2 separate regions of the Homo sapiens genome follow, and region 2 is linked to region 1. The links come from fine-mapping of genetic effects on gene expression. Tissue or cell type: tibial nerve. Region 1 holds a variant in brackets; the other region holds the start of a gene. All regions are shown on one strand. Distances are between the middles of the regions.

Evidence for each region.
Region 2: it holds the start of GPHN, and the variant in region 1 is fine-mapped to the expression of GPHN in tibial nerve (GTEx, PIP above 0.99).

What each region holds. Positions count from the first base shown.
Region 1 is chr14:66,472,849-66,475,651 of GRCh38, reverse strand. No RefSeq gene overlaps it. Among named protein-coding and RNA genes, the nearest start is that of CCDC196, 12 kb to the left of the region's middle. The variant T/C (reference allele first, on the strand shown) is at 1,056.
Region 2 is chr14:66,506,485-66,509,287 of GRCh38, reverse strand. GPHN (gephyrin) reads right to left here and starts at 1,141. Exons shown (of 23, transcript NM_020806.5): 1 at 697-1,141. The coding sequence starts at 760. RefSeq lists an enhancer at 157-316 and silencers at 407-556, 907-1,096.

The DNA of each region.
Region 1 (2,803 bases):
CTATTTTTCTGAGTTTTTCAAGTTTTTTATAATGAACATATATAAGCTTTTTAAGTTAAAAATAACTATTTTCTTTTTTCTTAATTATACTTTAAGTTCTAGGGTACATGTGCACAAGGTGCCGGTTTGTTACATATGTATACATGTGCCATGTTGGTGTGCTGCATCCATTAACTCGTCATTTACATTAGGTGTATCTCCTAATGCTATCCCCTCCCCCCTCCCCCCACCCCACAACAGGCCCCCATGTGTGATGTTCCCGTTCCTGTGTCCATGTGTTCTCATTGTTCAATTCCCACCTATGAGTGAGAACATGTGGTGTTTGGTTTTTTGTCCTTGTGATAGTTTGCTGAGAATGATGATTTCCAGCTTCATCCATGTCCCTACAAAGGACATGAACTCATCATTTTTTATGACTGCATAGTATTCCATGGTGTATATGTGCCACATTTTCTTAATCCAGTCTATCGTTGTTGGACATTTGGGTTGGTTCCAACTCTTTGCTATTGTGAATATTGCCGCAATAAACATACGTATGCATGTGTCTTTATAGCAGCATGATTTATACTCCTTTGGGTATATCCCCAGTAACGGGATGGCTGGGTCACATGGTATTTCTAGTTCTAAATCCCTGAGGAATCGCCACACTGGCTTCCACAATGGTTGAACTAGTTTACAGTCCCACCAACAGTGTAAAAGTGTTCCTATTTCTCCACATCCTCTCCAGCACCTGTTGTTTCCTGACTTTTTAATGATCACCATTCTAACTGGTGTGAGATGGTATCTCATTGTGGTTTTGATTTGCATTTTTCCGATGGCCAGTGATGATGAGCATTTTTTGATGTGTCTTTTGGCTGCATAACTGTCTTCTTTTGAGAAGTGTCTGTTCATATCCTTTGCCCACTTGTTGATGGGGTTGTTTGTTTTTTTCTTGTAAATTTGTTTGAGTTCTTTGTAGATTCTGGATATTAGCCCTTTGTCAGATGAGTAGATTGCAAAAACTTTCTCCCATTCTGTAGGTTGCCTGTTCACTCTGATGGTAGTTTCTTTTGCTG[T/C]GCAGAAGCTCTTTAGTTTAATTAGATCCCATTTGTCAATTTTGGCTTTTGTTGCCATTGCTTTTGGTGTTTTAGACATGAAGTCCTTGCCCATGCTTATGTCCTGAATGGTATTGCCTAGGTTTTCTTCTAGGGTTTTTATGGTTTTAGGTCTAACATGTAAGTCTTTAATCCATCTTGAATTAATTTTTGTATAAGGTGTAAGGAAGGGATCCAGTTTTAGCTTTCTCCATATGGCTAGCCAGTTTTCCCAGCACCATTTATTAAATAGGGAATCCTTTCCCCATTTCTTGTTTTTGTCAGGTTTGTCAAAGATCAGATAGTTGTAGATGTGTGCTATTATTTCTGAGGGCTCTGTCCTGTACCATTGGTCTATATCTCTGTTTTGGTATGAGTACCATGCTGTTTTGGTTACTGTGTCCTTGTAGTATAGTTTGAAGTCAGGTAGCGTGATGCCTCCAGCTTTGTTCTTTTGGCTTAGGATTGACTTGGCAATGCGGGCTCTTTTTTGGTTCCATATGAACTTTAAAGTAGTTTTTTCCAATTCTGTGAAGAAAGACATTGGTAGCTTGATGGAGATGGCATTGAATCTATAAATTACCTTGGGCAGTGTGACCATTTTCATGATATTCATTCTTCCTACCCATGAGCATGGAATGTTCTTCCATTTGTTTGTATCCTCTTTTATTTCATACTGTACTACAAACGTAGACCATATACCTGCAGCCATTGGATCTTCAACAAACCTTCTTGCTTTGAAGGGCAGATGGGGTCCTGGGTCAAAACTGAGTGAGTGTTCCAAGGTGAATGGAATGATTTCCAAGCTAAGTGTAATTCCAAGGTGGGTGGAATGATTTGGGAAAGGTGCTAATGCTTCTTTGTATTTGTAATACCTACTAGAGTGCTTGGCATTTGTAGATAATTAAATTTGTTTGTTAAAAGCATGTGTGATTATCTGAGGATATTAGGAGTGAGAATGCAAGCCAGGTGTTTTGCATGTTTTGCATGTTAAAGCAGTTTCTGGGGTTTATAATATGGTTTGATTATCCTGGCTGAATGAAAACGTAAGAGAAAATGTGATTCAGAATATAAATTACTCAGTTCTTTCTTATCCCCCGTGGCAAGGCATATCCCCCAAGTTTGCTGATTTGGAAAATCCTTATTTTTGCAAGGACTGAATTCCCTTGCTTGCTATTTATCAGCATTCTGCTGACAACTGTTGTTCCTTCTCTGTTCTTAGCCCCTTTTTTGTTTTTCTTGTTAAAATATCTATTTAAAAAGTCAGTTCAGTAGCCCAACTATTTCAAAATCTCATTTCATCTCATTTGTCATTTATTACTAGGCCTATTTTCTCTTCAGTGTTTCTTATCCCCCAGATACATTTGAGGAAACTCTTTTAAATCCCTGGAACGATTGCATCACTAGTTCATTTTACTGAAAAAAAATTGACTCAAACTTTGATCCCTATATATTACTCCTACTTTTCAATTTCAAGTATTTTTTTCTTATAAATCTAGAACTTTGAAAAGTCCCTAGTGAGTCTAGTCTGAATAAAACACACAGTTTTGAGAAATTTATCAGATGAATTATAACGTATTACTATTTACCTCTAGGTTATTTGAGGATAGTCTGGTCTTTTTTTAATCTAACAGTTTTCCATACCTTCTATCATTAGGGTTCACAAAGATGCAGCTTGTTTTGTAGATATTTCATATTTTTCCCTAATTTTGACTTGCTTTTGGTTTCTT
Region 2 (2,803 bases), 34 kb before region 1:
GCCCGTCCTCGCTAAGGAAACGACGAGGCAGACAGAGGGCCTTTTGCGCGGAAAGGCAGAAGGCAGACACTTTCCGAGGTCCGGACGCAAGCCGATCCCCCATCCCCCGAGGGAGGCGAAGGGTGCCCCATGGGTGGCTGAGGGGACGCCCGGCCCGCGAGGGACAACCCGAGGAGGAGCAGTTTCATCTGATTAACACCTGAGTCTCGTCCAGGCAAGCACAGATACTGGCGTGGGGCCGCCCAGGTGGGGGGAAGGGAAGGAGAGGAAGGGGGTGGAGATGGGATTCCCCCCTCTCTCTGAAGAGCACTAGCGGAGGATGCGCCCAGGCCAGCCGAGAGCGGCATGCTTCAGACTGCGGAGCCGGGATCCCGCCGCCTGCACCGACAGCGCGGAGCCCCGCAGCGCCCTCCGCACCGGCCCCTCGGTCCCCGGGGGCCCAGGACTTTGCTTCCGAAGGCGCTGGGGCCTAACATCCCACGGGGTCGACCCCGGCTCCTGGGGCCTGGGGGAGGGGACCCGCGGGAACACCCCCAATCTCCGGCGGTTCTCAGCGGTTGTAAAATGCACCCCCGCGGTTCCCTTCTTCAGCCTTCCCTCCTCCCGAGGCCGCAGAGAAGGGCCACCACAGGCGAAAAGCCTAAGGCAATGCAGGGACAGCAGCCTCATAGGTCCCAGACCTCCTCCCCCGGTTACCTGTAAGGACTCCGACACGGATTTGATGGTCGTGGTTAGTAAGGATCATTCCCTCGGTCGCCATGTTTCCCAGCGCAGTCACCGCACTGACAGGAGCCGGGAGAAACCGGAGCCCGGAGCGCGCGGGCCGGGAGCGCGCTCGCCGAGGAGAGCGCGACAGCTAGGGAGCCAGAGAAGCGCGAGGAGAGCGGGGAAGGAGGGGGAGGCCACAGAGTGCACGGTGGCCTGCGTGGGGGAGAGGCCGCGCCGGGAGTGCGCGGGTCCGCGGGAGGGGAAGGAGTCAGGGCGCGCGGCCCCAAGTCCGGCAAGAAGGAGGCAAGCTTGGGGGGCGCGGTGGCCGCACGGGGAGAGCGCGCGGAGGCGGCAGAACGAGGCCGGAGAGTGTCGGAACGCTCTGCGGAGCGCGAGACCCAAGGCAGCTAGATGGCAGGACTGAGAGGAAAGGATAGCACACGCTCTGGAGGTTGCGGGGGCGGACTCGGGGACAAGGGCGGAGCTACACCCCTAGGCGTGGAACTCGTGGAGAGTGAGGGGAGGAGTGAGAGCTCGGGTGCTGAGTATTGGGAGCGGGAAGGAGCCGGCCCAGCCTGAGTAGGACCGCGGATCGCTCCTGGGCGCGCGAGTAGCACCGGATTGGCTGAGTGAACGCGGAGCGTGTGCGCGCGAGGCACGAACGCAACCTCGGCCGGGCCCCAGACAGAAGCAATCCCCTGCCGAGCCTGACACCTCGTTGGTTGTCCGCGCCTTAGGCTGGCTCTCGCCGGCGGGCCGGCTTTCTACGCGGGGGCAGCGAGGCTGGCTCAGCACCCCGGGCCTCCTCTTGCAACCCTCGGGAATGGCCGGCCGCCCCACTGAAAGCGCTGGGGAACCGAGAGGTGTCTTAGAAAGCTGCATGAGTGGCAGAACGGTGGCTACTATGACAGAGAGGCCGCCGTGGGCGAAGAGGGAGGTATCCTGTCCTGCCTCGTGCTAGCCGCTGGCTTCCTCAGTGGGCTCTCCCTGAAGGAGGATTTCCGCTTCACCTATGCTTTAGGATTCCATCTCCAGTCAGTGCCTGCAAGACGATCCTCACGTGCGAAACTGAGGAGTCTGAGGCAGGGCAGCTGGAGTGGAGATACCTGGCTTCTCTTCCTCCTGCTGTCCCACGGTTTTGTGGCCTTAAGCCTCTTCGCCATGAGCGCTGCTTTTAGATGAAAAGCATCAATCTCCTTAGCGAACGAGAACGTGTTCCACCTGAACCACAGTCCATTGCCGCGGCGATTTTCATTTCAGTATTCGTGGGATGTGAGATTACCATGAAAGTAGCTTTTGTTGCCATTTATTTCCATGTGCCTTTCATGAAACGTGTTATTAATCACCTGTGGCTATTCTACGTTAGTTTCTTACTATCGTTCTGGACCTTTCAACTTCTGAATTTTAAAAAGTTATATGCGTGTGTGTGTGTGTACACACACTCATATGTATATGTTTTCTCTTCTTAGCTGTAGTAACCTGGAGGCATAAAAGTGAAAAGCAAAGTATTAAAAGATGTATATCAGTGTTTATACACAAATTTCAAAGTCACTTTGATAGGTTTTTTTTTGGTTTTGGTTTTGGTTTTTTTTGATCCGGAGTCTCGCTCTGTCGCCAGGCTCCAGTGCAGTGGCGCGATCTCGGCTCACTTGCAACCTCTGCCTCCCAGGTTCAAGCGATTCTCCTGCGTCAGCCTCCCGAGTAGCTGGAACTACAGGCGCGTGCCACGACACCCAGCTAATTTTTGTATTATTAGTAGAGACGGGGTTTCACCATGTTGGCCAGGATAGTCTCGATCAAGATCTTGACCTCGTGACCCGCCCGCCTTGGCCTCCCAAAGTGCTGGGATTACAGGTGTGAGCCACCGTGCCTGGCCGATTATGAGTTTTTTATTGTTCCGTTGGAACATGAAATTACCCATCCTCTGAAGATTCACGTGCTTATGTATTTCATTTTAAATAATGGGGCCTAAAAGTAGATGATGGATGGAATTGAAGTGGGTAAAATAAATTAATGGCTTTTTTGCTTTTGTTTTTGTTTTTAGTATGTGTATTGCTGGTATTTTTGACAGTAATTAAAAATTTAAGCCAGGTCA